Linked DNA regions of Homo sapiens. The protein of the gene in region 5 purifies or fractionates together with the protein of the main gene of each other region. This does not show direct contact. Each region holds a gene or a part of one and is shown on either strand. Other genes may lie near its edges. The genes, in order: MAN1A2, ANTXR1, TPCN1, CMTM6, PMEL, CLCN7 and GTPBP2.

Region 1 (4,158 bases), on a different chromosome or scaffold from region 5:
CAATAACCAATCTCTCATTCCAAACTCAGGAACCCAATAGTTTTAGATAGCTAAATACATATGCATATATATCCAAGGGCTTCATAAATTTAAGAATTCTTGTTTAAACTATTTATACAGACTGTTAAAAATGTGAATAAAAGGCACATATCTGTATTTTCATTCAAATTTCATATTTTAACTCCATTTACTGAGAATTTTTGTGTAAATGTTTTTAAACTAAAATGTGGTCATATTATTTTAAACTTTTAGACCATTCAAAATGTATTTTTTAAACTGCTTAGTACATGACAGATACTATTAATAATAGAGCTAAGTAATGTTAATGTGTGGCTGTTGTGAAACAGCTCTAAAAACAGCCTTAACACATTTTTTCAATATATTTCATATGTTATACAAATACCATGCGAAATAAGATTTTCAAGGAAAACTACTTTCACCGTTAATTTTTCAGTAACATATTTCACAGATCATATTAGTGTTTTCTTAAAGTCACAACAAGCAAAGTGCAAAATTAAAGAAACAAATACAGGAGTACAGTAGTCGAAAATGGCAAAAATTCCAAATTAACTTAGTTACAAAAGAATGGCATGAAACAATATTAGAAGTAACTACTCCATAAAATTCATCCAAAAGTCAAAGAACCATCACACAAGTAATGAATTAACTAGGTTGAGAAAAAAAGAAAAACCAGTTCTCATAAAACAGTGCATTTTCCCAAATATTTAATGTAGGCTTACACGTGAACCTAAGCTTTTTCGGTGCTTGACAAAAAGTTAAAACTATCATCAGATGGGAAATGAATTCAAGCACATGATTTTTTTTCCCACATACTCAAGAATTATTTTAAGAAACAAGGAAAAGATGGCAGGTTTAAGAAAAGTCAACTACTTTCCCAAACTCTTGAGTACAAATATAAAAATTATAAAAATTGTAACTAGAGCTCCCATTTTATCCTAGTTTGGCTATGCTCTCCCCAGAGCTCACTTTAGATTTAGTGATCTGAAAGAATGTGAACCCCTTAATCAACCAAATTCCAATAGTTGCTTGACACAGTCCATCTATTACATTAAAAGAGAGAGCAAAATTAAGTTTCACAAAAATAAATCTTGTCTACAAGCCTCACAAAGTGCAATAACTTAGGATTCAATACCTTTTAACTTAACTGATTTCATATACAGCACCAACACACATCCCCAAAAAAAGAACAAAAATCAGGATATTTTCACGTTAAGAAATGACAGGTATATTCTGCCCACGTTTGTCATCCTAAAAAGCTGACTCACTACTAAGCTTCAACTACAAGCCAGAAAACGAGAGCCCTCTGGGAGAGCACACCCAAAAGAGCTGTCAAGGTTCGATGCTTTGATTTCACATGGTGGCACAATGACTGACTCCAACACGTTATTAATAAATGCAGGCACAGCTTATGTCACCATTTCTTTAGGTTAAGTTTTCATACCTCCCTTCCCAGATGTCCACATTAGACACAACTCTGAACGCAAATGTTTTTCTTATATAAAACCGAAGAGAAGAACGACTTAGGTAGGACTCCAGTCCTACCAGTCTATGGACTCTACCATAGACTGGAGGTAGAGTCCCTCCAGTCTATGGTTTTATTCAGCCAGTCTTGAAGTAACAATACAATATTTATGACTCGAAAAATTACATTTTACTGCAAGAAAAAAAAAAGACAGATTCGATCCAATCACCGTACCTTGCTCTGCCAAATGTTAGTACCAGAACTTCTGAAATAAACAAACCTGTGTCTATGTTCATCGGGTCCATGGATCAGGAAGACTCCGGGGTTTTTAGCCCCTTTACCGGCATCTACATGTGGAATTAACACATCTTCTAAACCCAAATCAAAGCGTTTGTGTTTTGAAGAGTCTGGAAGGAAAAAGAATGCCCCAAAACACAGAGTGATGAAGGCACTAAGAATAAGGAGAAGAATAAACTTCTCAGAAAGTCTCAAGGTAGCCCTGTGATGTGGGAAGGAAGGCGGCCCCAGGTTCAGAGGTGGTATCCTACGTCCAGAGAGGGGCAGCAGGGCTGGGGTAGTCATCGTTTACGCTCTTGGAGAGAATACTTTAGAAAGTTCTCATCTTATGTCAAATGTAGAATACATTGAACTGTCTTCAAAATCTTGGCCAAAATGGGAAAACTCAATTTTGCTCCTCTTAAAGGACTGTTGTGCTTTTTAAGAGGGCACGTCATTCACGCCCATCCATTCCCACTCAGAAACGTGTGTGACCTCCCCCAAACGATCACAAGTTTAGGTCCTGCGATATCCTCTTCAACATCTGTACTTCATCGGATTATTACAAGCCTCCTCTTCATTCCTAGGGGTAGATCAGGCAAGCCACACTGCAGAAAAGCTGCAAGGTGGGTTCTTCCATTCCTGCACCTCAGTGAGATGCTCAAACGTAGTCTTCCGCCCCGAAAGGGAGACTGGCGACATCCGAGGAGTTGTAGAAGGTTCACTTGATCTCCTTCGACGCTTCTATTCCAGAATCTCTTAACCTTAGCGGTGGAAAAAATAAGGGTCTCCCACGGACGTCTGCAAACAGGGAGGAAGGTCTCCCACTTCGCTGGGAAGCCGAAGCAGCGGCGCTGGGCGAAGTAGCAGGAAGGAGTTCTCGGCCGCCCGCGCTTCCCGGCGCTGCCTGGCAGGAACCTGGCGCCCGGCTGAGTCCCGCTGCTGCCCACTCGACGGCTGGCGCGAAGGGCAATAGCGTCCGAAACACCTGAGTCCGGCCAGCCGCCGCGGCCGCCGCCGCTGTTGCTACCGCACGGGTCTGTCAGGGAGCGGAACTTCCTCCTCCGGCGGCCACTGAGAAGCCCCGGCGTGTCCTGGGGGAGGGGAGGCGCGGCGGCCGCCCCCGCCGAGCTCCTCCTCCTCCTCCTCCTCCTCTTCCTCCTCCTCCTCCTCCTCTCCGCGGCCGGTTCAGTGAACCCCGGCGCCTGCTCCCCGAGCTAGGCCGCCGGCCGCAGTGGCCGAGCCCTCGCGCCTAAGAAGCCGAGCCGGGGCCCACGCTCCGAGAGCCCGGGGTAGGCGCCGGCTCATTCCTCACTCAGCCCTGGAGCGGCGGGAGGGCCTGGGCGCGCGGGAGCAGCCGCGCCTCGGGCGGGCAGAGGTCGGCCGCGTCTCCTTCCTGCCCGGCCGCGGGGGCCTCCTCCGCGCCGCCTCCGGTGGCTCGCAGCTGCTGGCTCTGGCGGCGGCTGCCAGAGAGGCAGCGCGCCCACGCCGCTCGGGGCTGCGGCCCGGTCCCCGTACCCTGCCTCCCCAGGCCTGGTGAGCGCAGCAGCTGCTGGGCCGACACCCGTTGGGCTCACGCCGGAGAGGAACCGGAGGGCGGGGGCGATGGGACCCGGGCCGGCCTACCGGCCCCGGCTCGCGAGTGGGCGTCCCCGGGCGGCGGAGTGTGAGGTGCGCGCGCACGCTCCCGGCTCCGCTGCCGCCGCCCCTCCCCCACCCAGCCTGGCTGCCCGGGCTCCGGCCTCGCGCCGCTGCCGGCTCCAGCAGCCCGAAAGCGTACTGCTGCCGCCGCCGTCTGAGCGCGAAAGAAGAGAAGGTCGCCGATCTGCGCTGCCACGAGAACTTCACCGGTGCCCAGGGCCTTGCCACCGCCAGTTCGTGGGGTTGACCCAGCGTTTGGGCGAGAGGGAGCGAGGGGTTGGGTCGCGAAGGTTTCGCTGAAATGTAGTGTCACCGGAGTTAATGGCTTCTGATGGCTTAGGTTAACGTTTACTGTGATTCTTTGGAAGTCTTGTCTTCAGCGATAGACCGTCAGGCCCGAGGATTCAGCAACAGGGTCTCAAACTTCCACGCAGCAGCCCATGCTCACGTTATTGGGCCCCCGAGGCTCGATTAATAGAGCACCAACATGTGCCATGTTACGTTTTTAAAATAAAGTGGTGACCCTGCTCCTTCAGCTGGGCTTCCTTTCAGAGGAATCTAGGTACCCCCGATATGACAGGCGTCTCTTCATTGTTCAGTTTCTGGGGCACGTTCTATCATCTTCACACACCTCATCAACCCCCTTCCCATAAAAGAGAAAATGGATGAATAAGGAGGTGCTGAAACCCAAAAAGGCGACAATATTGTTTACGTTCAGGCTTAAAAACAATCTGAATCAATTCTGTTCTCCGTAGTAT
Region 2 (3,900 bases), on a different chromosome or scaffold from region 5:
TAGTTAAGGATCTCATCATGGCTTGATATTTACTTAATATCTGTCTCTCCACACTAGAACGTACGTTCCACAGAGGCTTTTGTTTGTCATGCTTACAATTGTATTCCCAGTCTTTAGAATAGCACTATGTTGTATGTGGTGGGTGCCCAAGAATTATCTGTTGAATTTACAAATAAGTTAAATAAGATGACTCAAATAAAGCAGTTAATTAAGTGTCTGCAACTTAGCTCAGTGACAAGAAGTTAGTGTTTATATTTTTTAAGATGAAGAAAGAAGATGAGGAACTTGTAACTGTGGATGGAAAAAGGGAGGAGATGTAGCAACTGCTCTTCATCTTGGCACTGTAATTATTCTTGTTGTGGGGAGAAAAATATCACCATTTATAGTCATGGATGGATTATAAGGAAGTGGCATGATTTCTCTCCTGGGTAGAGAAAGGAAGCTGGAAAAGGGGTTGATAAAGCAGAGGAATGAACAAAAGAGGGAGAAATTGCTCACAATGCTGAAGCCTGCTTCTCACAGCCTTGTTTTGGTGGCATTTGGGTGAAGTCCTATGCAGGGCACCACTGCGTGGGATGGGGCACCCCATGCAGGAGGCAAGGTGCAAAAAAGCAAAGGCAGGAGAGGTCAGGACAAAAGGTGACAAAGCAAAGCAGAAACATGTTGGCACATTAAGACTCCCTGAGTTACATGTTGTGCTTGGGATGGGCAGTCTTCTTTAAAATGATTTTCAAAAAATTTAATACATCTTAAAGGACAGAGAGGTCACAGCAGACTAGGACGTACAACATTCTGACAGCTGACACTTGGGTGTCTCTCTCTCTCTTACTTGGTTGCTCGCTCTCAGATTCTGCTGACCCTTGTATTCTAAGTGCAAAGTAGGTGCTCGATAAACACATATTGCATTCATGATAACACACCATTGAATTTATGCAGCCTTTCCCATGTTATGTGCCAGTCACTCTTTTGAGCACTTTAAATGTATTATTAATCCTTTAATCTTGCAACCACCCAGGAAGGTACATGGTGTTATTATTCCTATTTTAGAGAACGAGAATAGAGACGTTAAATGACTTAGGTCACCCAGCTTGTATGTGACAGAGCTGGATTTGAACTCATGCAACCTCATTCTCCTTTGATTGTTTCTCAGCATTGGCCAGTCTGGATTTTGTTCTTTTGTGGTTTGCTTTTCCAATCATTTGATGGCAACAAATACACGCTCATTTTTGACTTCTCCTTGTACCTGCTAATTTTGATAATTTTTTTTTTTTTTTGGAGACAGGGTCTCACTCTGTCACCCAGGCTGGAGTGCAGCCTCAACTACCACAGCTCAAGCAATTCTCTCACCTCAGCCTGCCTGAGTAGCTGGGACTACAGACACATATCAATGCACCCAGCTAATTTTTCTATTTTTTGTAAAGATGGGGTTTTGCCATATTGCCCAGGCCGGTCACAAACTCCTGGGCTCAAGTGATCCTCTCACCTCAGCCTCCCAATGTGCTGGGATTACAGGTGTGAGCCACCGCACATGGACTTAATTTTGATAATTTATAACTGCAAAATATAACAAAATAAAGTCCCCAACACAATAAAATATTATAGTTCATATTACTTTACCTTAGAATTTCCGAGGTTTCTTTCACCTTATGATGTGAAAGCAGGAATCTTATATGTCCTATATGTGGTTAAACTTTACATTGGAGGTGGATGTATGTTTCTGTGTAAGTGGCTGTGAACACAGATATACAAAATATGGCTCTGAAAGCCTGGGCATTCCCAGTCTGGGGCAGTTTTCCAAAGGAGATAACAGAAATTCTATCCCCTAAAGCTGAACACAGCAGCACCACGAACGTTAAGAAACTCCAAGAATAAAGCCGCTTTATTCCACAGGGGACTCAACTAGGTTCATGAGCCTCTTAATTTTTTAGGAGCTCATCTAATTAAGTCTTTTCACTGCACAGAAGAGGAGTCAGATCTAGAGAAATGAAGTGACCCCTAAAGGTGAAGTTCTGGTGTGGTTTTCTGATGCCTTGTCCAGGGGTTTTTCTCCCCCTATATTTTACGAAAAGAACTTAAAGAAGGATTTACAACTGGCTTTCTCTAATTCGCAACCCCGCTGAGTGCTCAGGATATAGTAAGATGCATGAAGCCGGTTTCCCCGCTTTCCAGGTTCCACTTGCACACGGGGGCAGTTCTCCCTCTAGTCCCTGGCCCCTCCCTCTTGCCCCTGGCCCCTCCCTCTTGCCGCTGGCCCCTCCCTCTAGTCCCTGGCTCCTCCCTCTTGTCCCTGGCCTGGGGAAGGAGGCGCCGCCCTCGTGCTCAAGGGCAGGGCCTGGCCTTCTCGCAACAGGAAATGCCTAGGGCTTGGGCAATCTCCACACGCTGCCGCGCCACCGAGCCCGTCGCTTAATCCCCTGACCGGAGCTGGCCTGCCAAGCTCAGACAACAGCACCAGGCAGCACAAAGGCCCAGGGGCTGACGGACGGGAGAGTCAGAGTTTCCCCTGCAGTTAGCATGGGTCTGTTTACACATTCTGGAGACAGAAGGGTTTTGCAATCCCCAGGAAGAGAAGGGAATCTTTGATGTGTCTTTCCATTTGGCCAAAAATGGACGGAGTAGAATCCCAGCCCCTCAGCAAGGCCACTAAGAAACTCGGCAGCACTGGAGGGTGGATTTTTACATCTCATTAAATCATAAAGGCTCTTGAGATCTTCCTCCTACACTGCCCTTCAAGGATGGTAGCAGGGAGGGAGAAAACACCAGTATAGAAATCCTCAGTGTGAGCTGGCTTTCCTTTAGTAAACAAAACAAAACAAAAACCTTGCTGTCCTCTATGGTTATTGGAGGATGGGGCTGGATGAGCCCAATTGCTGTGAATGAGAAATCAGGGGCTTGTGGGGAATGAGAAGATGAGCAGAACAGAGTGGGGCAGAGCTACCAGTGAACAGCTACGACCCCCAATCCCCCCGAGTGGTGGGGGTGGCCGGTGGTAAATAAGAGTCCCTTTAATATTCCGTCAGGGGTTGTGGGCTGCACTATACTTTTAAACCTTCAGTAAAATTTGCTGCGCAGTTGGATTTGTGCCAGAGCTGCTAGATCGTGTCTAGCAAACCGAGAAGATGAGATAACGCGGAAGAAGCGAGGAGTAGGAGTCAGTGGTGCCTGGGAGAAACCGCAGGGATTGGGGAGGGAGGCCGGTTTCCCATCAAGGGAAGTTGTGTTTAAATCTGAAAGGATGTGGTGGCTCCAGACGTCCAGCTGGCTGGAGCTTGGGTAACACAAATGGCAGCACATTCCTCAGATGGTAGAGGCCCCTTCTGACCTGCGTGTCCTCAGGCAGACCTGGGTGTGCCTGCAGGCACAGTGCTGTTCGAGGAAGAAACAGCTGTAGAGGATGAAGTCTGTGAACTCACTTGGTTAGCCTGTAATTGGATTAGCCCTGTGCTGTCCTCAGACCCTGAACTTTTCCCATCTTTCCCAATCATGCCAGGCTTTTGTGCAGCTCCACGCTTCAACATGCAGGGCTCCACATGCCTGGAAAGCCCTTCTCCCATTGCTTCTACCCATCCCTTAATGTTGTTTAAGCGTAACCTATTCTGCCAAGAACTCCCGGGTTCCCCAGAGAATGCAATGCTCTCGCCTCATGAGTTTCCACAACTCCACCTTCCACTCACTCAACACGTTTAACTGTTAGTTATTAAGCAAACCAGAGGGTAGAAAGGATGAATTTTCCAGATTCTGGGACTGCCTCACTCCTGCATGTATACTGTGCATGGGACAACTCCACAGACTTGATGTGAATAGCGTCCCCTGGAGTTGTGCAAAGGGTGGCCCTCTCAGACTCAATTGATAAGTTCTTTAACTTTCCTGCTTCTCTGGTATCCATTTACTAGAAGAGCC
Region 3 (3,900 bases), about 57 Mb from region 5:
TCTTGGCTGGTCCCGACTTCTCTGCCCTCTCTTCCCTTGCAGTACTTCAGCACCCTGGAGAACAGCATCGTCAGTCTGTTTGTCCTTCTGACCACAGCCAAGTAAGTGCAGGCTCTGCCTTGCCTTTGGTCCTCTGCTGCCGCCCTGGGGTCTCTTTCTCTTTTCTGCCAAGTATATTCCACATCCCAGCACAGGCAGGTGCTGTGGTGCTATTGGGAGACAGGGTTGGCCCACTGAGCACGGAGCCCAGGGATGAGAGTAGGGGAACCAGGGTTGGAGGCTGGGAAGGCAGACAAGGAGCTGTCCTCTGCAAGGCATGTGCTCTGAGAGGATGGAGACAGGCAGATACAGCACGCCGGGTCACCCTCTGCAAATACAGTTTCCCAGATGTGATGATGCCCTCCTACTCCCGGAACCCCTGGTCCTGCGTCTTCTTCATCGTGTACCTCTCCATCGAGCTGTATTTCATCATGAACCTGGTGAGTGACTATGCCTCAGGCTACGCTGAAGCAGCCTGCCCCTACCCATGCAGCACTAGGCACTGTGGGAGTGGAGAAGTGGGGACTGTCTTCTGCCTCTCAGGGCAGAACGTTGGGGCAGGAAGTCCCAGATTCATAGTCAGGTGCGGTGTTGCAGGGAATGCCCTGTCGGGACTTCAGGAGTTCAGCCAGTTGCTGGGGGTGGCGTCCTCACCAAGGCAATGCTGCTGATGCTGGTAGTGCTGGATGTGAAACCCAGGCAACCCTGGGACCTTTTCATTCTTACATCAGAAATAAGCAGTTGACCCTCGGTGTCCACAGGGATTGTTTGCAGGACCCCCTGTAGGTACAAAGATCCACAGATGTTCAAGTCCCTTATATAAAATGGCAGAGTATTTGCAGATAACCTGTGTACATTCATCCTCTCATATATTTTAAATTATCCTGCATTACCTATAACACCTAATACAATGTAAAAGCTATGTAAATAGTTGTTATACTGGGCTGGACATGGTGGCTCACGCCTGTAATCCCAGCATTTTGGGAGGCCAAGGTGGGTGGATCATTTGAAGTCAGGAGTTCGAGACCAGCCTGGCCAACATGGTGAAACCCTGTCTCTACTTATGAAAATTAGCTGGGCGTGGTGGTGGGTGCCTGTAATCCCATCTACTCAGGAGGCTGAGGCAGAAGAATTGCTTGAACCCAGGAGGTGGAGGTTGCTGTGAGCCGAGATCATGCCGTTGCACTCCAGCCTGGGCAACAGCACGAGACTCTGTATCAAAAAAAAAAAATTGTTATACTATATTGTTTAGGGATAATGACAAGAAAAAGAAGGCTGTACATGTTCAGTACAGATACAACCATCCTTTTCTTTTTGGAATATTTTTGATTTGCGGTTGGTTGAATGCATGGATGGAGAACCCACAGATAAAGAAGGCCAAGTATATTATAATAACCATAAAAGCTGGCATTTAGTAAGCCTTAGCCACTTGGCACTATGCAAAGTGCTTTACATATGAGGATGAAATAATTTAATAAATAAACACAACCGTGGAGGTAGTGAGTATGGTTCTCCATGTGCAGATGAAGAGACTGAGGGTCAGAGTGACAGTGTGATTTGCCCATGGCTACATAGCTTGGAGTGGCCAGGCCAGGCTCATCCCAGAGCCCTGTTCCTAACCACTCTGTTCAGTTGCACTCACGTGCCAGAAATGTCTTGTGTATTTCTACCTCACTTATCAGGAACCATCAGAAAATCCAGTATAGAACACGTTCTGTGAAGGAGAACGTAAAGCCTCTGTGCTCAAAGAACTTTGAGGGTGTTTGTGGAGGTGTGGACAGCCTCCAGGAGTGTCCCAGCCATCACAGATCACATCCGACACCAGGCTGTTAGGCCGGTGCCCAGACCACACATCCATGGCAGAGCTAACGGGGAGAGGCTTCCGATCGAGTCCTGTGTTTATTTTTATGCTTCTGCAGAGCATTCTCACACCAGTCACCACAGTCAGGCCCAGTATAGAAATGAAAATCATCTTTTCCAGGTAGACTTGTGAAATCTAAAAAATTTTAAGTCCTTTTCTCTTTTTTGAGATGGAGTCTCGCTCTGTCACCCAGGCTGGAGTGCAGTGGCGCAATCTCAGCTCACTGCAACCGCCGCCTCCCAGGTTCAAGCGATTCTCCTGCCTCAGCCTCCCAAGTAGCTGGGACTACAGGCACATGCACATGCCGCCACACCCGACTAATTTTTGTATTTTTGGTAGAGACAGGGTTTTGCCATGTTGGTCAGGCTGGTCTCGAACTCCTGACCTCAGGTGATCCGTCCGACTCAGCCTCCCAAAGTGCTGGGATTACAGGTGTGAGCCACAGTGCCTGGCCAAAATTTAAGTCTTAAAAAGGAGAAAATATTTCCTTTTTTTTTTTTTGAGACAGAGACTTGCTCTGTTGCCCAGGCTGTAGTGCAGTGGCGCGATCTCGGCTCACTACAACCTCCGCCTCCTGGATTCACACCATTCTCCTGCCTCAGCCTCCCGAGTAGCTGGGACTACAGGCACCCGCCACCACGCCCGGCTAATTTTTTTTGTAGTTTTAGTAGAGATGGGGTTTCGCGCTTTGTTAGCCAGGATGGTCTCAATCTCCTGACCTTGTGATCCACCCGCCTCGGCCTCCCAAAGTGCTGGGATTACAGGCCACCGTGCCCGGCCTGAGAAAATATTTTCTTGTTTTAATTCCTCAAAACCAAGAAGAAATATGTTGAGTACTTCTTTGTATTTGATTTAATTCATAATATATTTAGAGCTGTGAAAATTTAGGGCAGCAGTCAACAAAGTACGACCTGCTGGCCAAATTTGGCCCATGGCCTGTGTTTGTAAATAAAGTTTCATTGGGACAGAGTCATGCCCATTTGTTCATGTATAGTCTGTGGCTGATCTCATGATATGACCACAGGTTAGTAGTCGCAGCAGAGATCATTTGGCCTTCACAGCCTAAAACAGTTGCTGTCGAACCCTTTACAGAAAAAGCATGCTGACCTTTGATCCACAGGGAAAAAATGGGGGACCAGTTTGAGGGAAAGGACCAGAGAGTTTCCCTTAAAACATTTTTAAAGACAGAGAAAGTGTTTCTAAAAAGGATTCTTTCAAGTTCTTCCCCGGCCTTCCATCCCCCTCTGATAAGCTAACTTTTGGTATTAGCCAACTCTAGAACGTTATTTCCTTGCATGCAGAGCCTCTCACTCCCCTTTTTCCTGGGCCACACGTGAAGCAGTGACTCACAAGGAGAAGTAACAAAGGGGCAGGGGGAGGAAGGGTCCTTCTGGATCGGAGGTCAGGAGGGCAGTGGGCAGGCAGCCTCCGCCTGCCACTGGCTGGAGTCGGACTGGGCTCAGAATCCAGATGCGCCCCTCTTGCTACTCTCTCCTCCCCTGGCTTGCCCCTGCGCAGCCTGGGACAAGCTGTAGCTGGAACTGGGGAAAGGAGTGTGGGAAAGTGGAGGGGAACCTGGGAAAGATGGAGTAACAATGCCTTCATGTATCTGAAGAGGGAAATTTACAAGCGGAACAAAGGGCCTTCCTCTGTTGAGACTTGGGAGACTGACTTCCTACCCCATGAGGTGCAGGCGAGAGGGTCTCCCCAGGGCCTCTCTGGGGTGACTGGGTAAGAGCCTTGCCTAGATGATGAACTCATACCCCCCTGCACTCCCTGCCCTAACCACTCAAGGTCCTGAGCTAGGGCTCTGTGCTTCTCTCCCACAGCTTCTGGCTGTGGTGTTCGACACCTTCAATGACATTGAGAAACGCAAGTTCAAGTCTTTGCTACTGCACAAGCGAACCGCTATCCAGCATGCCTACCGCCTGCTCATCAGCCAGAGGGTAGGAACTATGGGCCAGGGAGGGGCTTGGTCCCTGTCCTCCCTCCCTTGCCCA
Region 4 (3,900 bases), on a different chromosome or scaffold from region 5:
GTTCTTTGCACTCTTAAGGTTTTTTTTTTTTTTTCAAACCTCTGAGGCTCCATGGGGTTTGCTATTACAGAACTGAATTGAATATTGAAGGGATAGAGAGTGGAGCCTGTACACAGAGGAGATTAGAGATAAAAGAACGTAACTTCTCTATCTCTTGAAGTTAACATAGCTGTGTCTGCCATTTAGATATGACCTAAGTTTTGTTAAAACCCTAAGCATCCCCCAACTACCATCCACCCTTCCAGAGCTTAAGAAGAAATACTCAGTTGAGAATTTAGTGTAAGGAGTTACTGGAGTCCTAACTTTATGCAGTTTTTCAGTTTATACTATCCTTAGATTTGTCCACATGTTCATGTTTTATTTTGTGAATGTTTTTGAGGGAGTTTTTGTTTTAAGGGGAGAATTGACGTTTGGTAACCTAATTGCTTGCTGATACGCTGGTGCAGTGACCTAAATATGTGGAATTTTCTGTGCAACAAGCTCCACATTGTATCCATGCTGTCAGTTGACTATCCTGATAGCTGCACAGTACTGGAATTCTAGTCGCTCATCTGGCAAGCAGTTTTAGAAATCGCCAGTGATTTTTCAATATATTACATTATAAATAATGTTACCCTATAAGTACCAAGAAACAGATTACTTGGAAGCATTTCTTATATTGATGCTCTTTTCATTATTTAAATATGAAAACTGATGTATAGTAAATTGAAATGTTCTATTTTTACCTTGAGGAAGATCCCGTAATGTCAGCAAATTATATCTGAACCTTTGTAAGAGTAAATATTTGCCTAAGGCAAGGGAGGCCTGGCCTGTTTCTTCAGACCAATGGATTTTTAAATTTGAACTTTACTTATAACTACAAAGTTTTTAATAGTAAAGTTCATTAATTTATAATTCATATCATTTTGTAGATGGAGCTTTATAATTAATGGCAAACATTTAAAAGTTCTTTTTATAAAATATAAGTAGTAGACTGTTAAATTAATGGAGAATTCGTATTTAATATAGTGACCGTTTTAAGGAACACTTGAAATTTCAGAAAAGGTAGTGAAACTGAGGCCGGGTGCGGTGGCTCATGCCTGTAATCCCAGCACTTTGGGAGGCCGAGGTGAGCGGATCACAAGGTCAGGAGATAGAGACCATCCTGGCCAACATGGTGAAACCCCGTCTCTACTAAAAATACAAAAATTAGCTGGGTATTGTGGCGTGCACCTGTAATCCCAGCTACTCAGGAGGCTGAGGCAGGAGGTGGAGATTGCAGTGAGCCAAGATCGTGCCACTGCACTCCAGCCTGGCAACAGAGCGAGACTCCATCTCAGAAAAAAAAAAAAAAAAAAGAAGGGGTAGTGAAACTGAAATGGAGAGATAGAGGCAGGATAGTAATTATCCAGTGTTTAAATCACCAGAACTGTAAGATCATGTTTTAGTCACTGAGACTTCCCAAATCTGTTGATGTTAGCAAATTGTTTTTAATGTATGATTTAATACATTAAAGGAAATATACAGAACTGTGGGTTTAACTTCAAAAAGCCAGTCTTACAGGGAAGACCTACACAAACATACATACTCGTAAAAGGAATTTAACAAACAGTATTTCATGGGGAGAGAGGAAGTACAGAGTGGGAGTCAGAGACTTGGGTTCTTGTCTGTGCCGAGCTAACTTGGGGCTTAACCTGTCAGTAGCTTAATTCCATCTTTGTAAACGTGGGAGTGGGAGACTATATCCGCTAAGGGCCCTCCTGACATTAAAAGCTTGATAATTCTCTTAATTATATTTGGGTAAAATTTTATGTCATTAGAAGGAGTTACATTGGGTATACAGTTGTTAAGTACTTAGCTTAATATTCAGTAAGCAATATTTAGTATGATGACTTCATGCTATTAAGAACAAAACTGTTTACCAAAAAATAATAATTGAGCCTTTTTACTTATGGGTTATGTTTACCATGAATTTCTTAGCTAATTCAGTGACATTTTTTCTCTCTTCCTATTTTTGACCACTTTGGCATTTAATGCTGGTGACCACTCATTTCTCGAAATTGTTCCTTCAGCTTTTACACTTTTTTTTTTTTTTTTTGAGACGAAGCCTCGCTCTGTCACCCAAGCTGGAGTGCAGTGGTGCAGTCTCGGCTCATTGCAACCTCTGCCTCCCAGGTTCAAGCAATTCTCCTGCCTCAGCCTCCTGAGTAGCTGGGACTACAGGCGTGCACCACCATGCCCGGCTAATTTTTGTATTTTTGATAGAGACGGGGTTTCATTATGTTGGCCAGGCTGGTCTCAAATTCCTGACCTCGTGATCCACCCGCCTTGGCCTCCCAAAGTGCTGGGATTACAGGCGTGAGCCACCGCGCCCGGCCAACTTTTACACTTTTTTCTTTTTAATACAAGAAAGTGTCTGCTTACCAAAAAAAAAAAAATCAACTAAAAATATTAAAATAAAACCACTTTCCCACCCCTCACACTACCAGGTGTCACGGTATGAGTAACAGTTTGGAGTATGTTTACTTGCTGCTTTTTAAGGAGTTTTTTCTTTCTTTTTTTTTTTTTTTTTTGAGACAGAGTCTCGCTGTTGCCCAGGCTGGAGTGCAGTGGTGCGATCTCGGCTCACTGAAAGCTCTGCCTCCTGGGTTTACGCCATTCTCCTGCCTCAGCCTCCCGAGTAGCTGGGACTACAGGCGCCCGCCACCACGCCCGGCTAATTTTTTTTGTATTTTTAGTAGAGACGGGGTTTCACCATGTTAGCCAGGATGGTCTTGATCTCCTGACCTCGTGATCCGCCCACCTCGGCCTCCCAGAGTGCTGGGATTACAGGCGTGAGCCACCGCGCCCGGTGTAGGAGTTTTCTTTTTTTAAAAACACTTCCTGTGGCTTGCTGATAAGAAGTTAGTTGCTCTTTTCCCTCCTACACTCGGAACTGTAGAATTCCTTTAGGCCCCACCCAATCCTCTGTTCCTCCTGTTTTCTAACCTACTAAACCAGACAGGTGTTCCCTCCTGCCTTCATCTAAACATCCATATTCCCTTGCATGATCATCACACAACCACACCCAACTCCTAAACCATTTTTTTCTTCATCCCCATCCAGTTAGGTCAGTTGCCTTATTATCATTTTTGGATTTACTATGCAAATTCTTGCCCTTATGAATATGTTCTTTTTCATCCTCCACCTAGAATTAGAATGTCCTCTGTCTATCCAGGTTCTGTTTGTGTCTCTGCCTGGTTTGAGTCCTGCTTTTCCACTCATCCTTCTCCGGCTCCTTCGAACATTTTCTTGAGATTTTCTAACCTACATATAATGAATGCTCAGTTAATGTGGTATAAAATATATTGTTATTATTGTTTCTTGTACATTGAGCTTATTACTCCATCATTTGTATCTTCCTATACGTAGAACAGTGTTGGAGTGTTGCTAGTTCAAGTACACTTTGAGCTAGCAATTGCATAATGCTGTGGGAGCTTACAAAGGTTAGTAGCCTCAGAGATGGGTAGGCAGAGAATTTTTTTTCTTTTTTTTTTGGTAGAGATGGGGTTTCACCATGTTGCCCAGGCTGGTCTCAAACTCCTGAGTCCAAGCAATCCTCCCGCCTTGGCTTCCTAAAGTGCTGGGATTACAGATGTGAGCCATCGCATCTGGCCGACAGAATTTCATATTGACTATAGCTTGTAGTGCCAATTTGTTGGCCTTTAACTTGAGATGGGAGCTAGTAAATGTCCACACTTTTTTTTTTTTTTTTTTTGAGATAGTCTCGCTTTGTCACCCAGGCTGGAGTGTAGTAGCGCCATCTTGGCTCACTGGAACCTCTGCCTCCTGGGTTCAAGCAATTCTCATGCTTCAGCCACCCAAGTAGCTGGGATTACAGGCATGCGCCACCATGCCCAGCTAATTTTTCTATTTTTAGTA
Region 5 (3,900 bases):
GCTGAGGTGGGAGGACTGCTTGAGGCATGGAATTCAAGACCAGCCTGATCAACATAGCAAGACCCTGTCTCTACAAAATACATTTAAAAAAAATTAGCCAGGTGTGGTGGTATGCACCTGTAGTTCCAGCTACTCCAGGGGCTGAGGAAGGAGGATCACTTGAGCCCAGGAGGTTGAGGCTGCAATTAGCTATGATCACACCACTGTACTCCAGCCTGGGAGAGAGAGAAGGACCCCGACTTTAAAATAAATAAATAAATAAATAAATAAAATAAGAAAAATAAAAGAAAAAGAAGATATATGTATATATATATAGCCACATATCAAAATATTTAGAGTGATTTGCTCTAGCTAGTGGAATAAAAATAACAGCACTAGGGGGCCAGGCGCAGTGGCTCACACCTGTAATCCTAGCACTTTGGGAGTCTGAAGCGGTTAAATCACCTGAGGTCAGGAGTTCAAGACCAGCCTGGCCAACATGGTAAAACCCTGTCTCTACTAAAAATACAAAAATTAGCCAGGCGTGCTGGCGGAAGCCTATAATCCCAGCTACCCAGGAGGCTGAGGCAGGAGAATCGCTGGAACCTGGGAGGTGGAGGCTGCAGTGAGCCAAGATCGCACCACTGCACTCCAGCCTGAGCGACACAGCGAGACTCTGTCTCAAAAATAAATACATAAATAAATAACAGCACTAGATAGCATTTATTTAGCCTTTACTGTAGGCTAGAGCAGACACTACATTAAGTACTTTACACATATTATCACATTCTAATCCTTACAACAATCCTTTTATCTTCGGAAATGGAAACACAGTGAGGTGGGCAGATCACTTGATCTCAGGAGTTTGAGTCATCCTGGATAACATGGTGAAACCCCGTCTCTACTAAAAATACAAAAGAATTAGCCGGGCATGGTGACATGCGCCTGTATCAGCTACTCGGGAGGCTACTCCCAGCTACTCAGGAGGCTGAGGCGGAAGGATCACTTGAACCCAGGAGGCAGAGGTTGCAGTGAGCTGAGATCCTGCCACTGCACTCCAGCCTGAGCGACACAGCCAGACTCTGTCTCAAAAAAAAAAAAAAAGAAAAGAAAAGAAAAGAAAAGAAAAAAAAAGAAATGGAAACACAAAACAAGTAACTTGCCCAAGGTCACATATCAAGGACAAGTTTAAATATAGGTCTGTTCAACTTCTAGGTCCCCTGAATTCTGCTGTCCTCCACTTTAGGGACTGTAATTTTCTTTTTTCTTTTTGAGACAGGGTCTCACTCTGTCACCCAGGCTGAAGTACAGTGGCGTGATCATGCAGTCTCGACCTCCCAGGCTCATGATCCTCCCACCTGAGACTGCTAAGTAGCAGGGACTACAACTGTAATTTTCTTTTCTTTTTGCTTTCTGTTTTTTTTTTTTTTTTTTTTTTTGAAATGGAGTCTCGCTCTGTCGCCCAGGCTGGAGTGCAGTGGCATGATCTCGGTTCACTGCAAGCTCCACCTCCTGGGTTCACGCCATTCTCCTGTCTCAGCCTCCCAAGTAGCTGGGACTACATGCGCCTGCCACCACGCCCGGCTAATTTTTTGTATTTTTTTTTTAGTAGAGACAGGGTTTCACCGTGTTAGCCAGGATGGTCTGGATCTCCTGACCTCGTGATCCGCCCGCCTCGGCCTCCCGAAGTGCTGCGATTACAGGCGTGAGCCACCGCGCCCGGCCTTCTCTGTGTTTTTAAATTTTAACTACAATGAGTATGTATTACACATATAACTTGTTTTAAAAATTAAAGGAGGAGGCCGGGTGCGATGGCTCACGCCTGTAATCCCAGAACTTTGGGAGGCCGAGGCGGGCGGATCACAAGGTCAGGAGATGGAGACTATACTGGCTAACACGGTGAAACCCTGTCTCTACTAAAAATACAAAAAAAATTAGCCGGTCATGGTGGCAGGCGCCTGTAGTCCCAGCTACTCGGGAGGCTGAGGCAGGAGAATGGCGTGAACCCGGGAGGCAGAGCTTGCAGTGAGCCGAGATTGCGCCACTGCACTCCAGCCTGGGCGACAGAGCGAGACTCCGTCTCAAAAAAGAAAAAAAAAAAAAAGTAGAGAAGGAAGGGGCATTCCCTGAGCTCACTGGGCATACCAGGGAACCTGAGCCCTAGGAATAAGGACCTAGAATAGAGAAGTACTCACCATTGATGATGGTATTGTTGACCCAGATAACCTGCCCATCTGGCAATACCTTTTGGCTTCCAGGGAAGTTCAAGGCAATAGAGAAGGAGGCATTTGCACCAATCAGTGTAGGCCCATCATTACTGACCTTGAGGGACACTTGACCACCTGGGAAGGAAAGCTACATTAGCTGGGACTCCTGGGCTTCCCCTCCCTGTATACGTTTCCCCTCCTTTTCTTCCCAAGCTACACTCGATGCAGTTCAGCTTGCTTTTTTCCTCATCCCACTCCCACCATGCCCTCCCCTGGAACTTCCAAGTTCCTACCTCTCCAGCAGTCAAGTCTCTGGGCTTCTGTCCACTCTGGATACAGCTGCCTGTTCCAGGCTTTGGTTCTGAGTTGCCTTGAGACACCAAGCCAGTCCTGGTTTCTGGGTACTAAAAGGAATGTGCCATGAAGGGCCCTAGGATCCTTTCAGTTCCTTCTCAGGGATAACACTCTATTCATGTCACTCCATTCATTCTCACATTCGAAGTGCATTTTTTTTTTTTTTTTTTTGAGATGGAGTTTCGCTCTTGTTGCCCAGGCTGGAGTGCAATGGCATGATCTCGGCTCATTGCAACCTCTGTCTCCTGGGTTCAAGCGATTCTCCTGCCTCAGCCTCCTGAGTAGCTGGGATTACAGGCATGTGCCACCATGCCAGGCTAATTTTGTATTTTTAGTAGAGATGGGGTTTCTCCATGTTGGTTGGTCTGGTCTCGAACTCCCGACCTTAGGTGATCTGCCTGCTTTGGCCTCCCAAAGTGCTGGGATTACAGGCGTGAGCCACTGCGCCCGGCTGAAGTGCATTTTTAAAACTCATTTATTTGGCCGGGTGTGGTGGCTCACACCTGTAATCCCAGTACTTTGGGAGGCTGAGGCGGGTGGATCATGAGGTCAAGAGATAGAGACCATCCTGGCCAACATGGGGAAACCCTGTCTCTACTAAAAATACAAAATTAGCCGGGCATGGTGGTGCGCACCTGTAGTTCCAGCTACTTGGGAGGCTGAGGCAGGAGAATTGCTTGAACCCGGGAGGCAGAGGTTGCAGTGAGCTGAGATTCTGAGATTGCACCAGTGTACTCCAGCTGGCGATAGAGTAAGACTCCATCTCAAAAAAAAAAAAAAAAAAAAAAACACAAAAAACCCCTTATTTATTTGTTTATTTATTTATTATTACTCTTTTTTTTTTTTTTTTTTTTTTTTTGAGATGGAGTCTCGCTCTGCCCCCTAGGCTGGAATGCAGTGGCGTGATCTTGGCTCACTATAGCCTCCGCTTCCTGGATTCAAGCAATTCTCGTTCCTCAGCCTCCCAAGTAGCTGGGACTACAGGCACCCACCACCACACCCAACTAATTTTTGTATTTTTAGTTTCGCCATGTTTCATGGTTTCTCCATGTTGGCCAGGTTTGTCTCAAACTCCTGACCTCAAGTGATCCAACCGCTTCGGCCTCCCAAAGTGCTGGGATTATAGGCGTGAGCCACTGCGCCTCGCCTGTTTTGTTTTAAATCAAGACATAATTCACATACCATAAAATTTACTTTTAGCCAGGCATGGTGGCTCACATCTGTAATCCCAGCACTTTGAGAGGCCGAGGCAGGTGGATCACAAGGTCAGGAGTTCGAGACCAGCCTGGCCAAGTGAAACCCTGTCTCTACTAAAAATACAAAAATTAGCCGGGCGTGGTAGTGGGCACCTGTAGTTCCA
Region 6 (3,900 bases), on a different chromosome or scaffold from region 5:
CCAAAGTGCTGGGATTGTAGGTGTCAGCCACCGCGCCCCATGTGCAGTTCTCTTGCTGTGTCCTTGTCCTTGGTGTCGGGATGATAATGGCCTCGTGTGTGAGCTGAGAGGGGCCTCTCTCCTTGTGGCCTTGTCAACTGTGCTTCTCTCTTTGCCTTTTTCTGCCACAGGATATGGACCCTCCACATCCCTTCCCCAAGGAGATCCCACACAACGAGAAGCTCCTGTCCCTCAAGTATGAGGTGGGCGTCCTTCTGTCCCCCTGACCCTGAGACCCGGCCTCTGCCCCCTGCCAGCCCACTCCCGGTCCCCTGTGCCCGCACCCAGAGCGTGGGTTCGGTGCTGAGTGCTGCCCTTGCTGTCCCGGCCTGCAGAGCTTGGACTATGACAACAGTGAGAACCAGCTGTTCCTGGAGGAGGAGCGGCGGATCAATCACACGGTGAGCTGGACGCCGCTCCCTGCAGGGCCCCACGGTGCGGGGCCTGGTGCCGGCCGGGCCTGGGGCTGCTCTTCTGCCGGGGTGAGGTGACGCACCTCCTCCCTCCTCCTCTGACTCCGCCTCTGAGGCCTGTGGTTCGTCTGGTTTCTAGAGACAGTGGGAGGGTCACGGTCACCGTAACCAAGAAGGCTGCTCTTACGGCCGCCAGATGCGGTGCCCAGCATAACAACCGCTGGCTGTGAAGTTGTTGGGAATTCACCCACCTCCCCGAGTCACCCTCGGGCCCCGGGTGCGCCTCAGATGTTGGCCAGAAACTGTCCTTTGTGGGACTCAGCGCACCGTGCACACTGGGCCCTTCATAATCCCGGGGCCTGCAGGCGGTCTGGGCGGTCCTGCTGCTGCCAGAGTGACTGCGCCAGGGCCCTGCCTGACCCTCGCCCTGACCGCGCCCTGCAGGCCTTCCGGACGGTGGAGATCAAGCGCTGGGTCATCTGCGCCCTCATTGGGATCCTCACGGGCCTCGTGGCCTGCTTCATTGACATCGTGGTGGAAAACCTGGCTGGCCTCAAGTACAGGGTCATCAAGGGCAGTATCCTTCCCAGTGCGGCCGCTGCAGCTTGGGAGGGGGGCGTGGCCTGGGCCGAGTCCCGGGCAGAAGTCCTGAGCCCAGCGTGTTCCAGTGCAGGTGGAGGCGGCCCGGCCAGGCTGGCTGTGTCCCTGTCATGGTTGGGCCGTGAGACGTCTCTGGGATGTCCAGTGAACATCATGGCTCCACCCAGCAGGGTGGCATCTGCCAGGCTGGTCTGTGGGGCAGGGCTGAGGTCTGGGCTGGGTGGTCATGACGGGGAAGCAGCCAGCCCTCCTTGATGAGCCCCAGATATCGACAAGTTCACAGAGAAGGGCGGACTGTCCTTCTCCCTGTTGCTGTGGGCCACGCTGAACGCCGCCTTCGTGCTCGTGGGCTCTGTGATTGTGGCTTTCATAGAGGTGGGTGGCAGGATGCCGCAGCTATGGCGGACCCCATGAAGGATTGGGGGTCTTGGTGAATGGGCGGGAACCCCTGCAGCTCACCCACCCCCACCATCACATTGGCTGACAACCCGGGCACTTTTAGAATCACGTGGTCCAGACTCACAACCTCAGGAGGAGCAGACACACCAGGGCCTCTTCACCCCCAGAGCCCTGGGGTGCTGCTCCTGACCTACCAGCACAGGCCTGGGCACCCTCACCCCACTCCGCCCCTCCTTCCATCTCCTCACTCTGCCCTCCCCTCCTTCCATCTCCACCTCCGCCTCCACCACGTCCTTGATCTGTGTCTGGGCTGGGAAGAGTGAGAGCAGCTACCCCAACGACATGAGACCCTTCCCTGGGGCCCCAACGTGTGTGCTGCTCTTCCCTTCCCTGAGGCCCCGACGTGTGTGCTGAGCTCCCCTTCCCTGGGGCCCCGAAGTGTGTGCTGCTCTCCCCTTCCCTGAGGCCCCGACGTGTGTGCTGCTCTCCCCTTCCCTGAGGCCCCGACATGTGTGCTGAGCTCCCCTTCCCTGGGGCCCCGACGTGTGTGCTGAGCTCCCCTTCCCTGAGGCCCCGACGTGTGTGCCGCTCTCCCCTTCCCTGGGGCCCCGAAGTGTGTGCTGAGCTCCCCTTCCCTGGGGCCCCGAAGTGTGTGCTGAGCTCCCCTTCCCTGAGGCCCCGACATGTGTGCTGAGCTCCCCTTCCCTGAGGCCCCGACGTGTGTGCCGCTCTCCCCTTCCCTGGGGCCCCGAAGTGTGTGCTGAGCTCCCCTTCCCTGGGGCCCCGAAGTGTGTGCTGAGCTCCCCTTCCCTGAGGCCCCGACATGTGTGCTGCTCTCCCCTTCCCTGGGGCCCCGAAGTGTGTGCTGAGCTCCCCTTCCCTGAGGCCCCGACATGTGTGCTGCTCTCCCCTTCCCTGAGGCCCCGACGCGTGTGCTGCTCTCCCCTTCCCTGATGCCCCGACGTGTGTGCTGAGCTCCCCTTCCCTGGGGCCCCGACGTGTGCGCTGCTCTCCCCTTCCCTGGGGCCCTGACGTGTGTGCTGCTCTTCCCTTCCCTGGGGCCCCGACGTTTGTGTGCTGAGCTCCCCTTCCCTGAGGCCCCGACGTGTCTGCTGCTCTCCTCAGCTCCTGGGGCTCCTGGGGCTGAGGGGCTGCATCTGTCTCAGCCTGGCCGTGACCCACTCAGCCGTGCTTCCCCTCTTTCAGCCGGTGGCTGCTGGCAGCGGAATCCCCCAGATCAAGTGCTTCCTCAACGGGGTGAAGATCCCCCACGTGGTGCGGCTCAAGGTGAGGGTGCGGTGGCCCTGGCTGGGCAGGGTGGGCGCCCGCTCTTTGCTGGTTCAGGAGCAGCTCTCTTGGCTGCCTGCCTTCCAGAACTGGCCTCAGCCACCCTGTGTACTGGTGGCACTGTGTGCAGATGGGCTGGCTGGGTGTGAAGGGGTCACCTTTTTTTCTGAAAGTGGTAACAACTGGTATTTGCACATATTAAATTACGTAAGAAATGAGTAGTCATACAGAAATGCTTGCGTGGTGCATGTGTGACACAGCTGTGCGACGCGTCTGTGACTGTGGGCTGCGTGGTGGTGACTGATTCACCGTGGAAGCTGTCGTGGTAGTGGGCGTGTAGCAGTTTCCCGCTTTCAGTTTGCCTCATGGTCATTTACACTTGGTGTTATCAGAGCATCTGGTTCTGGAGGTGCTGGGAGTCCTGACCCAGTTCCGCTGTGGTTGCTTCTGTCTGTGCCGCCATCGTTCCTTAGCCTGAGACTTGCCGCAGCCCCGTCCCGTCTGAGGATGGGTGGGCAGCATGGCCGCTGCCCCCTGGGGGTGCTTCCGGGGCCTGGTCCCCGTGGCCAAGGAGCGGGACCAGTGTGTCCCCTCTGGCGAAAGCTCCCAGGTGACCTTGGGGTGCCCCTGCCCTGTGGTGGGAGATCAGGTTTACTGGAGCAGCTGGGAATGGCGACCCGCCTGTCACCCGCGCCAGGCTGGCCTGAACCTTCTTGGATGTTGCTCTATAACTTTTGTTGGCTGAGGGTTGAGTTTGCTCGGCATCTTTAACATACAGTCCTCCCCCACACACTCAGCGCCCTTGTGTTTAGGGTCTGCGCCCTTGTGGGTTCTGCCCTGGGGCAGGGAGGCTGATAAACACCTTACACACCTTCTCAGGTGGAGAGGATGAGGCCCCTGGGGGCGGGGAGCAGCCGAAGGGAGAGGGGGCATCGTGGAGCCGCAGGTGACCAGCCTTCCAGTGCCAGGGGTGTATGAGGAGCCTTGCTAGGCGGGGCTAGCGGGAACACCTCCCCTGTGCTGGCCACGCTGGCGGAGGCAGGTGTGCCTGTAGGATGCGGTGGGCGGCCCAGCTTTGCCTCAGGAAGGAAGGAAACGAAAGAACCCCTTGCCTGCTCAGTGCTGAGGCCACAGAGGGCAGGTCCCCCGAGTGAGTGCGGGG
Region 7 (4,530 bases), on a different chromosome or scaffold from region 5:
CTCCTGCCTCAGCCTCGCGAGCAGCCGGGATTACAGGCATGCGCCACCACGCCCAGCTAATTTTTGTATTTTTAGTAGAGACGGGGTTTCGCTGTGTTGGCCAGGCTGGTCTCGAACACCTGACTTCAGGTGATCCGCACACTCCTTGGCCTCCCAAAGTGCTGTGATTTACAGGCGTGAGGCACCGCACCCGGCTGAGTTGTTTAATTTCTTGACCGTGTATGAGCACCTCGCAGTTCGAGAAGAGGGGAGAAGTGGACACACTGTGAGTGGTCTGAGTCATGAGACAGCCATGCGGCTGTGAATTGAGCCCTAGCGTCCTGACTCGCAGCTCAGCAACATAACTGCTTTTCCACCCTGCCTTTCTGTGTTCTGTGCACTGGCTTATGTCGCTGAATGTATGTACTCTGTAGAGTGCAACAGCACTAAAGAGCTGGAGATTGCTTCACAAGAGAGTCAAAAGCCAAAAATCCCCTGTGGCCCTAGGCCAAGTTTCTATTCCCGGCCACTGCCCCGCCCTCGTGGTGGTTGGTGTAACCCGAGCCCTAGCCCCGCCCGAAGTAGGGGCCAGGCCCCTCCTACAGTCTTGGCCGTTTAAAACCAAACTCAGTTCTTCCCGATTGGTTCTGCTTCAAAACAAAGGGGAGGAGGAATACTCGCTTTGGGTATGCTTGCAGCCTTCGGGGAGGAAGCTGGTTTACGGGTTCGGGTCTCGTGTCGGGGCCACCGCGGTGCCTCCGGTTATTAAAACCAGCCCCTGGACGGTGCCAGCCTGGTAATAAAGCAGTGACTACTATGTAAAGGTAGCATAATCATCCCAACAATAACAGCCGTAATTTGGCTAATCACCATCCGCCTCCGCCCTGGCGTTCGCCCTGACTCACCCCAGCGGCACGCGGGCCATAGGGGAAGAAACTGAGGCAGAGGCGGAGCCAGCAGGCTGGCGGCACCAGTAGCCTCAGTTCTGCAGCTCTCGAGGTCCAAAACCTGTTGTCTAGGATCCGCGCTAAAGGGCCAAATCCCGGAGCGCCCACAAAGCTCGATTCTGATGTAAGCTCTTCTACGCTGGTGTCCTCGCGTCCCCACCCCAGGCCTCGAGGCTCTAAATTCCCCCCAAGTCCTAGAAAAAGAACATAGCGCGAGGACTGGAAGTCAGACTACAGCTCCCTTAAGCCTTTGCGCGCCAAGGCGCGCTCCTTCCCCACGCCTCCGACGACTCCCGCGGCCACTTGCGCCGCGATGCCTCCTGGGAGTTGTAGGGCGGCGACGTGTCATTTAAGTGAATTCCCAGGCCTGGGGACTCTATATCCCGTGGTGCCCCGCGGCTGTTTCTGACGCGACCCGGAGGCCAGGGAGGTGGGGGGCGTAGCTTGTGCAGAGCCCCACCCCACTCTGCTCAGGCCGGCCGGACACGGCAGTGGCAGTAAGGGCGGCGGCGACGGCGGCGGCGGTCGGGGGAGGGGCCGGGCGGGGGGCTGGCGGCAGCGGCGGATGGACTCGCGGGTATCGGAGCTGTTCGGCGGCTGCTGCCGGCCCGGAGGGGGCCCGGCCGTGGGCGGAACCCTCAAGGCTAGGGGGGCCGGCAGCAGCAGCGGCTGCGGGGGGCCAAAGGGAAAGAAGAAGAACGGAAGGAACAGAGGGGGCAAAGCCAACAACCCCCCGTATTTGCCCCCCGAGGTGAGCACCTGAGAAGTGGTAGGGCGGGAAGAAGCCACTCTTTCCGGCCCAGGACTCTAGGGAGGCGGGACCCAGATAATTAATCTCCCCTTCCGGTGTCGAGACCCCAGGGAGGAGGGGCACGGGAGGAGAACACCTCTTTCAGGTCCCGGGACCCCAGGGAGGAAGGGCAGAGACTGGACTCTCAGGTGACAGGACCTCAGGGAGGAAGAGTGGAGAGGGAGGACTCCCCCTTCTGATCTAGATTACCCCAGGAGAGAAGTAGAGAAAGGGGATCCCAGGAAGAGCACCCCGACCAACTGCGTGTGCCGCCATAGGGCAAGAGAGACTGCATCCTGGGACGAGAGGCAGACAGTAACCACCACTTCTTCTAAACTTGTTCCACAGGGAGAAGGGGAGTACCCGGGAAAAGAGCAATATGTTCCACACGGACACACACACAGTACTCGGGAAAAGAGCAGTATGTTCACTACACACACACACACACACACACACACACACACACAGCCTAAGCCAGTGGTTATCAAACTTTGGCATGTATCGAATCACCCGGATTGCTGGCCCCCAACGCCTGGCCAATTTTATTTTTTTATTATTTATTTATTTATTTTTTTTGAGACGGAGTCTCTGTTACCCAGGCTGGAGTGCTGTAGGGCTATCTCAGCTCACTGCAACCTCGGCCTCCCGGGTTCTCAAGCGATTCTTCTGCTGCAGCCTCCCGAGTAGCTGGCATTACAGGTGCCCGCCACCACGCCCAGATAATTTTTGTATTTTTAGTAGAGATGGGGTTTCACCATGTTGGCCAGGCTGGTCTCAAACTCCTGACCTCAGGTGATCCACCCGCCTCGGCCTCCCAAAGTGCTGGGATTGCAGGCGTGAGCCTCCGTGCCCAGCCTAGAATTTCTGATTCTTTCTTACTAGTGAGGATGGGCCTGAGAATTTGCATTTCTTATAAGTTCCCGTGTGATACTAATGCTGCTGGTCCCAGGACCTCACTTTGGGAACCATTGGTCTGGGCCCTAGACTGTCATTCTTGTACCACATTTTTTGAAGCCACCCATCCCCAGAAAAATGATTAAAAGGTTTTTATTGATGGGGAAAAAAAATAATCTCCTTAACACACCATGAAGTGGAGATTATGAGTGAAGACCTGTTAGGGCCTGGGAGCCAGACAGCCTTGAAGGGATGGAATGATAGGAAGGGAAGAGGAAAACTAAAATATCCAGAGAGGCGGGTAGAAAAATGCAGACTGGCCAAACAGGCAAATCCCATATCCCTTTGTACCTGGGAGGGGAAGCCTCAGGTAACAGGGTGCTTCTGTGCTGTGCTACCCACTGGAGCTAGAAGAGACTGTGGGGTGGATTCAGGATTTCACCTCCACTGAGGTTAGGGGGCAAGAGGTAAAGGCCATAGCGAGTCTGTCCGCTTCATTACATTTTCTGAGTTTTTCTGTTCCTCTCAGCCCCAGCTTTGGAGCTCTTCTCCTCTCTCACCTAGATCTTCTCGGTCATCAGGCTTGTAGTGACCATTGCTGAGCTCACCCTTTGGCTCTGATCCAGAACCTCTTGCAGCCTCTTACTCTAGATGACATCAGCTGAAAGGGGCAGGCAGGGAGGAAATGGTGTTTCCTAGACCAGTGACAAAGAAAGGTTTTAACAGCCTGGGCACAGAGGAGACATAGACTTCTGGGAAAAGCAGGTTTGAGGCCCTGGAGGTGGGGAGGAAGGGATGATCTTGCATCTAGGAAGAACGTGCTGCCAGTGATCAAAGAATGGATTGATTCAGTGTTCTGTTCCTGGCTTAAATGGGTGACTCCTTGTGTCCTTATAGGCCTTCCCTTCATAGAGGCTATGCTGGGGGTGAATAGAGGATCTTGTCTGCCACTGACCTTTGACAGGCACTTGCCTAACCAAGTGCCAGTGGGGCTTCCTGCTTTCTCAAGTTAGCTACCTGGACCCAGTGGGAATTGAGGGGAAGTAGGGATTGGGTCTGTACAGTGTATGGTAACTGCTCACTGTTTCTTTTCAGGCTGAAGATGGAAACATTGAATATAAAGTGAGTCCTAGGCTGGGGAAAAGCAGGGGCTGGGGTAGGTTGTCCTTGCCAGTGTGGGATAATTTCTTTTTTCTTTCTTTCTTTTTTTTTTTTGAGATGAAGTTTTGCTCTTGTTGCCTAGGCTGGAGTGCAGTGGCGCAATCTCAGATTCTCCTGCCTCAGCCTCCCAAGTAGCTGGGATTACAGGCATGCGCCACCATGCCTGGCTAATTTTGTATTTTTAGTAGAGATGAGGTTTCTCCATGTTGGTCAGGCTGGTCTCGAACTGCTGACCTCTGGTGATCCACCAGCATGGGATAAGTTCTCTGAGAGCCTTCCAACTTCATAATTATAGCAGTTTAAGGATATGGTTCAGGTTAAGGGCTCTGTACCTCGTTCTGTTGGAGGGGGATCAGGTATGAGTTTAAGTGGAAAGAGAAAGTCCTGGTCCTTGCAGCAGAACAGGTGGGGACCATGTAGGTTTGGGAGGAACACCTCTGATTTCACCTTATGATACCCCACTTGCCCTAAGTTGAAGCTGGTGAATCCATCCCAGTACCGCTTTGAGCACCTGGTGACACAAATGAAGTGGCGGCTCCAGGAGGGACGTGGTGAGGCCGTCTACCAGATTGGGGTAGAGGACAATGGGCTGCTGGTGGGGCTGGCTGAGGAGGAAATGCGAGCTTCGCTCAAGACCCTGCACCGGATGGCAGAGAAGTATGCTTCCCCTTCCCCACCAGTTCTCCTTTACCTGACTTGGGGGGACCCATGCATACCCAGTTACCTAGGGCCTGAGGGGCCAAGGTGGGACTTTCCTTC

The links.
Region 1: the proteins of PMEL (region 5) and MAN1A2 purify together in Homo sapiens (affinity purification with mass spectrometry; 2 studies listed by BioGRID and IntAct, with this or other methods). This does not show direct contact.
Region 2: the proteins of PMEL (region 5) and ANTXR1 purify together in Homo sapiens (co-immunoprecipitation; 3 studies listed by BioGRID and IntAct, with this or other methods). This does not show direct contact.
Region 3: the proteins of PMEL (region 5) and TPCN1 purify together in Homo sapiens (affinity purification with mass spectrometry; 2 studies listed by BioGRID and IntAct, with this or other methods). This does not show direct contact.
Region 4: the proteins of PMEL (region 5) and CMTM6 purify together in Homo sapiens (affinity purification with mass spectrometry; 2 studies listed by BioGRID and IntAct, with this or other methods). This does not show direct contact.
Region 6: the proteins of PMEL (region 5) and CLCN7 purify together in Homo sapiens (affinity purification with mass spectrometry; 2 studies listed by BioGRID and IntAct, with this or other methods). This does not show direct contact.
Region 7: the proteins of PMEL (region 5) and GTPBP2 purify together in Homo sapiens (affinity purification with mass spectrometry; 2 studies listed by BioGRID and IntAct, with this or other methods). This does not show direct contact.

The regions. Positions count from the first base shown.
Region 1 is NC_000001.11:117,366,091-117,370,248, reverse strand, and holds the start of MAN1A2 (mannosyl-oligosaccharide 1,2-alpha-mannosidase IB), read right to left. Parts: upstream 2,801-4,158; 5' UTR 2,066-2,800; coding exon 1,764-2,065; intron 1-1,763. UniProt on the Homo sapiens protein: Involved in the maturation of Asn-linked oligosaccharides. Progressively trim alpha-1,2-linked mannose residues from Man(9)GlcNAc(2) to produce Man(5)GlcNAc(2).
Region 2 is NC_000002.12:69,176,899-69,180,798, reverse strand, and holds part of ANTXR1 (anthrax toxin receptor 1 isoform 1 precursor), read right to left. Parts: intron 1-3,900. UniProt on the Homo sapiens protein: Plays a role in cell attachment and migration. Interacts with extracellular matrix proteins and with the actin cytoskeleton and thereby plays an important role in normal extracellular matrix (ECM) homeostasis.
Region 3 is NC_000012.12:113,273,190-113,277,089, forward strand, and holds part of TPCN1 (two pore channel protein 1), read left to right. Parts: intron 1-42; coding exon 43-101; intron 102-379; coding exon 380-479; intron 480-3,729; coding exon 3,730-3,846; intron 3,847-3,900. UniProt on the Homo sapiens protein: Intracellular channel initially characterized as a non-selective Ca(2+)-permeable channel activated by NAADP (nicotinic acid adenine dinucleotide phosphate), it is also a voltage-gated highly-selective Na(+) channel activated directly by PI(3,5)P2 (phosphatidylinositol 3,5-bisphosphate) that senses pH changes and confers electrical excitability to organelles.
Region 4 is NC_000003.12:32,496,035-32,499,934, reverse strand, and holds part of CMTM6 (CKLF-like MARVEL transmembrane domain-containing protein 6), read left to right. Parts: intron 1-3,900. UniProt on the Homo sapiens protein: Master regulator of recycling and plasma membrane expression of PD-L1/CD274, an immune inhibitory ligand critical for immune tolerance to self and antitumor immunity.
Region 5 is NC_000012.12:55,959,143-55,963,042, forward strand, and holds part of PMEL (melanocyte protein PMEL isoform 3 preproprotein), read right to left. Parts: intron 2,591-3,900; coding exon 2,480-2,590; intron 2,322-2,479; coding exon 2,175-2,321; intron 1-2,174. UniProt on the Homo sapiens protein: Forms physiological amyloids that play a central role in melanosome morphogenesis and pigmentation.
Region 6 is NC_000016.10:1,457,945-1,461,844, reverse strand, and holds part of CLCN7 (H(+)/Cl(-) exchange transporter 7), read left to right. Parts: intron 1-170; coding exon 171-242; intron 243-374; coding exon 375-440; intron 441-896; coding exon 897-1,029; intron 1,030-1,317; coding exon 1,318-1,427; intron 1,428-2,657; coding exon 2,658-2,738; intron 2,739-3,900. UniProt on the Homo sapiens protein: Slowly voltage-gated channel mediating the exchange of chloride ions against protons. Functions as antiporter and contributes to the acidification of the lysosome lumen and may be involved in maintaining lysosomal pH.
Region 7 is NC_000006.12:43,626,124-43,630,653, reverse strand, and holds the start of GTPBP2 (GTP-binding protein 2), read left to right. Parts: upstream 1-1,389; 5' UTR 1,390-1,491; coding exon 1,492-1,677; intron 1,678-1,737; exon of another isoform or gene 1,738-1,865; intron 1,866-2,064; exon of another isoform or gene 2,065-2,095; coding exon of another isoform or gene 2,096-2,137; intron 2,138-3,312; exon of another isoform or gene 3,313-3,375; intron 3,376-3,705; coding exon 3,706-3,732; intron 3,733-4,243; coding exon 4,244-4,428; intron 4,429-4,530. Other genes in the region: MAD2L1BP (MAD2L1-binding protein), read right to left, coding at 885-904.